Regions from separate parts of the Homo sapiens genome. Here region 1 is linked to region 2. Evidence: fine-mapped expression QTL. Tissue or cell type: prostate. Region 2 holds a variant in brackets; the other region holds the start of a gene. All regions are shown on one strand. Distances are from middle to middle.

Evidence for each region. PIP is the estimated chance that this variant, and not a neighbour inherited with it, causes the effect. A credible set is the group of variants that fine-mapping cannot tell apart.
Region 1: ATP1A4 starts here. The variant in region 2 is the best candidate, but not a certain one, in a credible set for the expression of ATP1A4 in prostate (GTEx, PIP 0.80).

The regions. Positions count from the first base shown.
Region 1 is chr1:160,149,379-160,154,594 of GRCh38, forward strand. ATP1A4 (ATPase Na+/K+ transporting subunit alpha 4) reads left to right here and starts at 2,225. Exons shown (of 22, transcript NM_144699.4): 1 at 2,225-2,809; 2 at 3,787-3,846. The coding sequence starts at 2,663.
Region 2 is chr1:160,174,575-160,179,772 of GRCh38, forward strand. It overlaps ATP1A4 (ATPase Na+/K+ transporting subunit alpha 4), which reads left to right. Exons shown (of 22, transcript NM_144699.4): 15 at 5-173; 16 at 1,518-1,672; 17 at 1,905-2,028; 18 at 2,945-3,090. Among named protein-coding and RNA genes, the nearest start is that of CASQ1, 13 kb to the right of the region's middle. RefSeq lists an enhancer at 1-512. The variant C/G (reference allele first, on the strand shown) is at 2,130.

The DNA.
Region 1 (5,216 bases), 25 kb before region 2:
TTAATGAGTGTACTCTATGATTCAGCAACAGGAACTGATTCTACAGAAATAGAAGCTCAAGGGCCTGATGATATCTATGTGCAAGAATGACACTCTAGCAATTTTATTAATGGTTAAAAAAATGGAAAATATCTCATAAATCCATCAGTAATGGGAATGATTGAATAGAGCATGGTCAATACAGAATATGGAAGCCTCACAGCACTGAAAAAAAGAAGCTTTATGTACATGACAGGTTGGTAGAGAGTTGAATGATTGTTTAAAAGTTGAAAAATACCTCCTTTTAGATATCTATTTGTATAAACATAGAAAAAAGACTGGAAGGACATGCAGCACATTGTTACCAGCAGTAACTTCAGCAGTGGGGAGAATCTGAGTTTGGAGGGAGGGAAGGTGGGGCTTTCAATTTTTATCTTAAACATTTTTAATAGAGAAGAAAAATCCAATCTGTTAAAGAAATAGACGATCATTTATCCCAGCTGGGAAGGGAGCATTTCTATTTCTGAATATTCAAGGAGGATTGCATCAGCACCAAGATGAATGTTTCCAGATACAGTCATATTTTTAAAAAGCATGCCCAACCAAAATGCAATTAAATAAATATCAGGCCAGGCTTGGTGTCTCACTTATGTAATCCCAACATTTTAGGAGGCCAAGGCCAAGGATTGCTTGAGCCCAGGAGTTTGAGACCAGCCTGGGCAACACAGGGGCACCCCGTCTTTACTAAAATAAAATAAAAAAAATTAGCCGGGCATGGTGGCACATGCCTGTGGTCCCAGCTACTTGGGAGGCTGAGGTGGGAGGATCACTTGGACCTGGGAGGTTGAGGCTGGAGTAAGCCATAATCGCACCATTACACTCCAGCCTGGGCAACAAAGTGAGATCCTGTCTCAAAAAGTAAATAAACAAATATCAAACAACAGAATGGGAAAATCTATGTGACGTGCATAATTGAAAAATATATATAATGGTTGACAGAAAAGTATAGATGCTTCAGATTATTCTTGGAAGGAGGTAGAATCCTATGGACATGCAAAACATATATACAGTTAATATAGTCAAAGCACTTACTGAGACACCAGAGAAGGTCAATGGAAGAGGTAAGTACATCATTTTAAAATGAGAAAATGCAACGCTATCACATGGAAAAGCATATTTTTACCCTCACTGAGAAGAGCTGCATATTAATCCACAAATAAAACTACTACTGAATTCAAGCTACCTATTGAGCACATACTATATATGTCACATAGTGCTTTTTGTAGAGCACCTCACTTAAGGTAGAAGGTATCCTCTTTTAAAAATAAGAAAAGAGAGGTACAGAGGTTAGGTAACTTGCTCAAAGCCACACAGCTGACAAGTGGAGGAGTTGGGATTGAAATCCAGGACTGGTTCCAGAGCCCAAGATCTGATCTATTCTGCTAGCTGATCTCCTAAAATTAAAAGATCAAACCCAATGTTAGTGGAAAAGTGTGCCTTGCTAAAAAACACACACAGAGTACCTGCTTTTTTTTTTTTTTTGAGATGGAGTCTCAAAAACAGACGGGAGAATATTAGTCCAAACTGCAACTGCACCATTTTGTAAGCTCCCTGCTATGGTTTTTTGTTTGTTTGTTTGTTTGTTTGTTTGTTTGTTTGTTTGTCTGAGATGGAGTCACTCTGTCACCGAGGCTGGAGTGCAGTGATGCAATCTCAATTCACTGCAACCTCTGCCTTCTGGATTCAGATGTTTCTCCTGCCTCAGCCTCCCGAGCAGCTGGGATTACAGGTGCCCACCACCACACCTGGCTAAATTTTGTATTTTTAGTAGAGATGGGGTTTCACCATACTGGCCACGAAGGTCTCGATCTCAGCCTCCCAAAGTGCTGGGATTACAGGCATGAGCCACCGCGCCCGGCCGAATACCCGCTTTATTTTTGAGTCATCTATTTGGCATACCTCTAAGCCTCCAAAGTCTGCAGGACCACACAAGAACTTTGTTCTAGTTCTGCCCTCAGACTGAAACTCTTTCTGTAGCAGGGCCTGCTCCAATCGTCCTCAAACCCAAAGACTGAGACTTCTAGGTTCTTGGTTAAAACCTTCATGAGGCCTTTGCGACAGCAGACCTGGACCATCGCCAAGGCAAGACTTCTGGATTCTTGGTTAGAACTTTCAGGAGGCCTTTGTGATGCCAGACCTGGGTCATTGCCCCAGCAACCACAGGGCCTGGGACTGGGGGGTTCCCAGATCCTTGAAGCTCACTCCGCCTCCTCACTCTCACTGCATTTCCCACCTTCCTGTGGGCCTTGCGGCATCTTCATCACTGAGGCACCTGGTTACGCTTCACCTCTTGTTTCCTGCCCTCACTGCATTCCCTCACCTCTACCTTTTTATCCTTCCACCCTAGGCTTCTCTCCTCCCTCTTCCCTCACTCCTGACTCTTCCTCTTCCCAGCGGACGGCTGGAGGACCGCTCAGTCTCTCCTCTCTCACTTCCCTTCCTCTCTCTCACCTTCACCACCCAACACCTCCCTCCCTGCCTCTTTCTTTCTGCTCCCTCATTCTCTCCCCACCACTCTCTTCTCGTGGCCCCCTTGCCCGCGCGCCCTCTTCCCTTCCCCTTGCCTCACTCTCTCAGCTTTCTTCCCACAGTTGAGCTCGGGCAGCTCTTTCTGGGGATAGCTATGGGGCTTTGGGGGAAGAAAGGGACAGTGGCTCCCCATGACCAGAGTCCAAGACGAAGACCTAAAAAAGGGCTTATCAAGAAAAAAATGGTGAAGAGGGAAAAACAGAAGCGCAATATGGAGGAACTGAAGAAGGAAGTGGTCATGGTGAGGCCACCCAAAGTGGGCGCTGACAGCTGCCCTCTGAAAACACTCCTCCACCTATCTTTAACATCTTACCTTGAGAATGAAACACACAGGCCAGAGCCACATCTCTTCTCTGTTAGGCTTTGGAGGGAAGGAGAGGGTTAAAAAAAAAAAAAAAGATACACACAGAGAGACAGGGCAGCTCAACAGCAAGCACAGGTATATTGCAGACACCTGTGGAAGTGGGGGATCAGCTTAATTCCACAGTCCACTGCCACTTACAGGCTGGGTACTTATAGGGATGGATGGGAGGAGTCTGGGCTGTATGGCCTGCTGCCTGGCAGGATATCGATAAGATGTTCTCATGATGAGGTGATTTTTGGCCCTTGTTTCCACAGAATATAATCATGGTATTCCCTGGACCTTTGCCCAGCAGGATGTGATAGGGATGTTTCTTTAGTGGGGTCTTTGTCTTTAATTGGGCCTTCGTCTGCCCTGTGGTCAGGTGGTTAGGCAGGCTGTTTCTCTGGCCCGAACCCCCGTGAAATGTTTCACTTTGACCAAGGCCTGTAAAATAGTGGGGAGCTAGGCCGGGCGTGGTGGCTCACACCTGTAATCCCAGCACTTTGGGAGGCTGAGGCAGGCAGATCACCTGAGGTCAGGAGTTTGAGACAAGCCTGGCCAACATGGTGAAACCCCGCCTCTAAAAATACAAAAATTAGCTGGTCCTGGTGATGGGCCCCTGTAATCCCAGCTGCTTGGGAGGCTGAGGCAGGAGAAACACCTGTTGGGAGGCAGAGGTTGCAGTGAGTCGAAATCGCACCACTGTACACCAGCCTGGGCAACAGAGTGACTCCATCTCAAAAAAAGAATTGCAGGGAGCTTACAAAATGGAGCAGTCTCAGTTTGGACTAACATTCTCCAGTCTGTTTCTCCCCCTCTCCCTGGAAATGACCTGGGCCACCCCCTGTCCCTCAATGCCTCTACTGTCCCCTCAGGATGATCACAAATTAACCTTGGAAGAGCTGAGCACCAAGTACTCCGTGGACCTGACAAAGGTGAGTAAGAAGCTCCCTGAGGAGGCAGAGAGTCTCCAACTCTGACTGTGAGGCTGCCAGGACAAAAGCTGAACTAGGAATCCAGCCCCCTAACTTCAAGTCCAACGTTCCCACCCCTCACCCTCTGCCTGGCCACGTTCCATGGACACTACCTGGAAAAAGCTGCAAATGGTAACTACCCTCAAAGAGAGTGTGGGACTAGATAAGAGAATAAGAATGCTTTAGGGCAGTGCTGGTCAAACGTCTTGTCCTTAGGTCTCCTTTACACTCTTAGAATTTATCTAGGACCGCAAAGAACTTGTGCTTATGTGGCTTAAGTCTGTCTATATTTACCATATTAGAAATTAAAATTGAGAGTTTTAAAATGTATTTCTCAATTCATTTAAAAATAACAAAAATAAAGTTATCATATATTCATATATGTTTTGACAAATAACTGTATTTTTCAAAACAAAAAAATTAGCAGCATCTTACATTTTTGCAAACCTCTTCAATGTCTTGCTTTTTAATAGAAGATAGCTGGATTCTCAAATATTTTCTGGATAAAATCTGTTGTGATGTTATGCCAGTTGGCCTTCAGAAAATTCCACTATATACTCTTAAGAAAATGAGAGTAAAAAAAGGCAAACAATGATTTAGTATTACTATGAAAATTGACCTTGTGGACCCCCTGAAAGGGTTTTGGGGCCCCTCGGGTGTTTCAGGCAGAGGTTGGGGAGTGGCTGGTGGTGATTGGCAGGTTCTACTATCATTTTCATTAACAGGAAAAAGCACATAAGCTTGTGCACAAGAGTGGAATGAGAATCTATGCATTCATGTTTTTTGTTAGTATTCTTTTCTATTTATGTTTTTTAAAAATTTATGGGCCAGGTGCCGTGGCTCACACCTGTAATCCAAGGCAGGCAGATCACTTGAGGTCAGTAGTTGGAGACCAGCCTGGCCAACATGGTGAAACCCCATCTGTATTAAAAATACAAAAATTATCCTGGCATAGTGGCACACATCTGCAATCTCAGCTACTTGGGAGGCTGAGGCAGGAGAATCACTTGAATGCAGGAGAATCACTTGAACCTGGGAGATGGAGGTTGCAGTAAGCCGAGATCATGCCACTGCACTCCAGCCTAGGTGACAGAGCAAGACTCTGTCTCAAAAAAAAAAATGGATATGTAGATGTACATATTTATGGTATACATGTATTATTCTGATATAAGCATACAATGTGTAATGATCAAATCAGGGTATTTAGGATACCCATAACCTCAAACATTTATCATTTCTTTGCATGGGAACATTCCAAATCCACTCCTCTAATTATTTTGATATCCATAATAAATTATTAACTATAGTTGCCCTATTGTGCTACCAAACAC
Region 2 (5,198 bases):
TCAGGGAGCCGTTGTGGCCGTGACAGGTGACGGGGTGAACGACTCCCCTGCGCTGAAGAAGGCTGACATTGGCATTGCCATGGGCATCTCTGGCTCTGACGTCTCTAAGCAGGCAGCCGACATGATCCTGCTGGATGACAACTTTGCCTCCATCGTCACGGGGGTGGAGGAGGGTGAGGAGGCAGGGTGCCCATGGTGGAGACTTCAACCCTGGACTCAGGTGGGGGTTGGTGTACATCCCCTCTTTCCGTTTTCCCATCATCCAACCTCCATGAGCCTGTACGGGCTCAGAAGAAAATCACTGTAAGACAAAATTTTGCAAATTAGATCAGCTGGTACATAGACCATCACTATCTGCAACCCCTTTTGATGAGATCGGAGAAAAGTCCCTTTTATTCATTTTGTTTTCCTATCAGGGAGACTGAGACTCTGGTATACATAATATCGTCATTGTCCTCTCACTGGACTTCAAGTAGGCCCACAGCCAGTTCCAAGATGTAGCCACACCCCTGGGACTATTCCATGCGCTGCAATCTTTAGGAGGGTCCCCTAGGAACCTGTTGCCTAAATAATGGTGACACATCAGGATCAGCTGGAGCTTGACCCGTGAATTGACTGCATGAGCCCAATTACACACCCTCTTCCCCAGAGAACTGTGAAGAGAATGCCCTCCTGCGAACAGGAGAGATCCAGAATTCTGCATTCCAGGTTCCCTGCTTTCTGCCTGGAGCTATCTTACTAAAACATATGGCAATCCACATCATAATCATGATTACCATTTCATTGAAACCTTGTATAATCCTGACACTTTGCTTGGTATTTTATATCCACTCAATTCAATAAGTTCGTTTGAACACTGACTATGTGGGAGGCACTATGCTTGATGCTGGGGATACAACAGTAGGGAGAACAAAGACACAAATCCCTGCCCTCGTGTAACTTAATTTCTAGTGGGGATGACAAACAATAAAATAATTAAATTATATAGTATGTTAAAAGAAGATAAGTGCCATGGGACAGACCAAGCAGAGAGTGCAGAGAGGGATTCGATCTTTGAAAAGGCAGTCAGAGACGGATGCAGCAATCTTGCAAGGCAGGAGGAATGAAGCTCACGGAGGTGAGGGTGCCCAAGGTCACAGCTAGCTATGGCAGAAGATGGGATTTGAACACAAGCCTGTCCCAAGCCCTGGCTGTTTCCATTCCAGCCTTAATCTTGTAAAGGCTTTTATACTGACATTCTCAAACATCGCAGGATTAACCAGGCCCAACCCTGCTAATTTTCAGAGATCAGATAACGTTAGCTAGGGTGAATCTAAGAACAAACAGTACACAGACGGCATGGCTCTGATTAAAAGGCACACAATTTAGAAACAATACTGGGACCCTGGAGGTCTAGGACCTCCAGACCCTTTCCTGGACTGTGACACTTCTTTGAGGTGGCCTGTCTGTCCCGGAGCTGGTTTGAGGGAGGCGTGTTCTCCCAGGGCTTCTCACAGGAGGTTGACCTTCCTCCCCAGGCCGCCTGATCTTTGACAACCTGAAGAAATCCATCATGTACACCCTGACCAGCAACATCCCCGAGATCACGCCCTTCCTGATGTTCATCATCCTCGGTATACCCCTGCCTCTGGGAACCATAACCATCCTCTGCATTGATCTCGGCACTGACATGGTAAGGGCCAAGCTGGTGAGCAAGAGATTCCCAGAATTCTGCCTCCTAAGCTCCCTGCTTTCTGCCTGGAGCTATCTTACTAAAACTCATGACAACCCACTTATGATCCAGCTCTCGCACCTCCTGCAAGATGGATTGAGGCTGCGTCAAGACAGAATGGTAGAGCTTGAATTACTGCTGGGTTTCCTTCTGAACTTTGTGACCCCTGTCATCCCCACCCTCCATCCTCCAGGTCCCTGCCATCTCCTTGGCTTATGAGTCAGCTGAAAGCGACATCATGAAGAGGCTTCCAAGGAACCCAAAGACGGATAATCTGGTGAACCACCGTCTCATTGGCATGGCCTATGGACAGATTGGTGCGCCCAGAGGAATGAGGGGTGGAGGGAGCAGGGAGTGGTTTCCCCTGCCTGGCAACGTGAGCCATCTCAGTTTGGAAGTCAGGGAGATATTTTCTCAG[C/G]AACAAACTGTGCTAGGCCCTGAAAACACAAAGAACCACTCATCTCTGATCTGTCCTTGACTTAGAGTCCAGTACAAAAGGAACAAACATACATAAAATGATAGCATCTCCAAGTGCCAAGTAATGAGTATAGACAGAACATACTACAGGATTACAAAGCAAGCAGGCTCACCATTATGAGGATAGCCAGAGAGGCCTTATGCAGGAAATAGGACTTAAACTTGGTGTGGGAGAGTGGGGCTTAGACTAGTAAGTGTATGGTCAGGTGTGGGAGACCAAAGGAGTGGGGAATTTCAGATGGCACAGTTAAAGAAGACTGAATAAACCAGGTTGGTAGAGCCCTTAGTCTTTATAAAGTAGTGAAAAATAAGACTGTAGACAGAGATATCATTTGTGTTGGGGTCAGCCTTGACAGACATTTGAGAGTCATTAGAAGTCTTTGTTCTTGATTTTCCAGGTGCAATGGTATTTCAGAAAATAGGGTGAGTGATGAACAGAGTAAGATCCTGTCTCAAAAGAAAAAATTGGGAGAGGGAATCAGTGGCCTCTAAAGTCCTTTTTAGTTTTAAGACCATGTGATTCAAAGCTGACTCTGGGTCAGAGTTTAGAAACAAATGTCAGGGCTTGAAGGAAAGTCCCACAGAGATGAGAGATAACAGGCTTAGGCAGCTGATGGCAAGATTCTTCCGCATTACTCTTCAGACACACACCAGCCCAGCCAGAAGCAAGTCCCAGCCCCCAGCCCTCCCCTGGCCTACCTTTTGGGGCCCTTCTCTGAACCAGGCTCCCCTGTCCTGCAACTCTGTCATTCACAGGGATGATCCAGGCTCTGGCTGGATTCTTTACCTACTTTGTAATCCTGGCTGAGAATGGTTTTAGGCCTGTTGATCTGCTGGGCATCCGCCTCCACTGGGAAGATAAATACTTGAATGACCTGGAGGACAGCTACGGACAGCAGTGGGTGAGTAGAAGGGATAAGGTAGGAGCTGAGACCAGTAAGAGTGAGAGTGACAGGGGAGAGTGAGTGCAGCAAATTTTTTAAGAGAGAAGAAGGGAAGCACCACACAAACAGAGCTGATGCCTTTTCTTCAGTCCTGTATGAGCCTTCTCACACTTGCCCTCAGTCTTCAGCCACAACAGCAAATCCTCTTCTGTTTAGCATAGGCTCATTCTGGTTGGCTCCTCCTGTCTGTTGTCTGGCCCTGCCTGTCTGAGTCCTTTGGCTCCTTGGAGTCTTTGTCATATCAACTTTTCTGAGCCGGTTTCTCTTTTCCCAGGTTTCAACCATGATTGCCCCAGAAATAAATGCTGGGTCCTCTCCTCTTATACTCTCCCTCCATGAGAGTTCAAATGATATGATTTAAAATTTGAGGCAGGGTGCAGTGGCTCACGCCTGTAATCCCAGCACTTTGGGAGGCCGAAGTGGGCGGATCACTTGAGGTTGGGAGTTGAGACCATCCTGGCCAACATGGAGATACCCCGTCTCTACTAAAAATACAAAATTAGCCGGGCGTGGTGGCGCATGCCTGTAATCCCAACCACTCGGGAGGCTGAGTCAGGAGAATCACTTGAACCCGGGGGGCAAAGTTTGCAGTGAGCCAAGATCACGCCATTGCACTGCAGCCTGGGCAACAAGAGTAAAACTCTGTCTCAAAAAATAAATAAATAAATAAATATAAAATTTGAAAACCAGCTGGGCACAGTGACTCACGCCTGTAATCCCAGCACTTTGGGAGGCTGAGGCAGGCAGATTACAAGGTCAAGAGATCAAGACCATCCTGGCCAACATGGTGAAACCCCATCTCTACTAAAAATACAAAAATAAGCTGGGTATGGTCGTGGGTGCCTGTAATCCCAGCTACTCAGGAGGCTGAGGCAGGAGAATCACTTGATCCCAGGAGGCGGAGATTGCAGTGAGCCAAGATTGCACCACTGTACTCCAGCCTGGCAACAGAGCGAGACTCCGTCTCAAAGAAAAAAAAAAACAAAACCCTGAAAACCTATTTTCTTTGTATATCCCTTCCTAATCATTCTAAACCTTTTTAACCTAGAGGATACCTCTCTATAGTTGTCTTTTCTAACAACCAAGATGAATGAGGCTCAAACTGAAGCCCTCTCCCCAACAATATGTGTTTAAGAATTTTAGTAGGTATGCTTTTTTGGTATCTGTGATACTCCTGTCCCAATTTCTAAGACAATGGGTCATGTGACATGTGACAGCAATTATTGCTAGAATTGTAGCGTCATAGAGGACACAGTAAATTTTCATCATTCTGTAGATGAGGAACCTGATCTAGGAAGATTCTGTAACTTGCTTAAAGTCCCACAGTGAATCCCTAAAAGAGCTGGACTTGAATTCTGGACTCTAGATCCCTGCCCAGCACTTTCCCACTTCACCACGATGTCTCCAAACCAAGCCAATTGCAGGTTTCTCAAATTGTGTTCAAATCTGAATTGTTGGGAAGGTGCCCCTCACATACAGTTGGCTTCCATTAGCTGAGGCTGTAAGGCCATCAGATGTCAATATTCCCAGCTATTAACACTGCTGCAGGATCCAGTGACACCCAAAGTTCTCATTGCTGTGTACCCTGCCAACATCTCAACTCCCAGCTCAAGCCCTTGTTTTCCATCTTGATACTTCCTCCCTGCTGCCAAGATGCAGCATAACATAAATTTACTGACAATAAATTAAAGGTAATTAAAAGTAATTTGAGGTAAAAAGTTAAGAATTCCCCCCTGCACATTGAAGACATCTTGAAGTGTCACAAAAATGTGTTGAGAACAGTTGCCCTGAGCAACAAACTCTACAAAGGCGTGTCCGTGTCTCTTCTATGACTGTAATTTTCAGATAATCTGGTATAGAGCCACCCACCCGGGAAGTGCATGATGCACTGCTAGAAGCAAGGATCGCTCCTTACTTTCTAAATATCTTTCATTAATTCCAGTGATTCCCTCACTCATTTGTTCATTCAGACAATATTTACTGAGCATCTTCTATGTACCAGGTACTGTTCTAGGGCCTGGGGATATGATAGTGAACAAAAATCATCAAGTTATTGCTCTCATGGA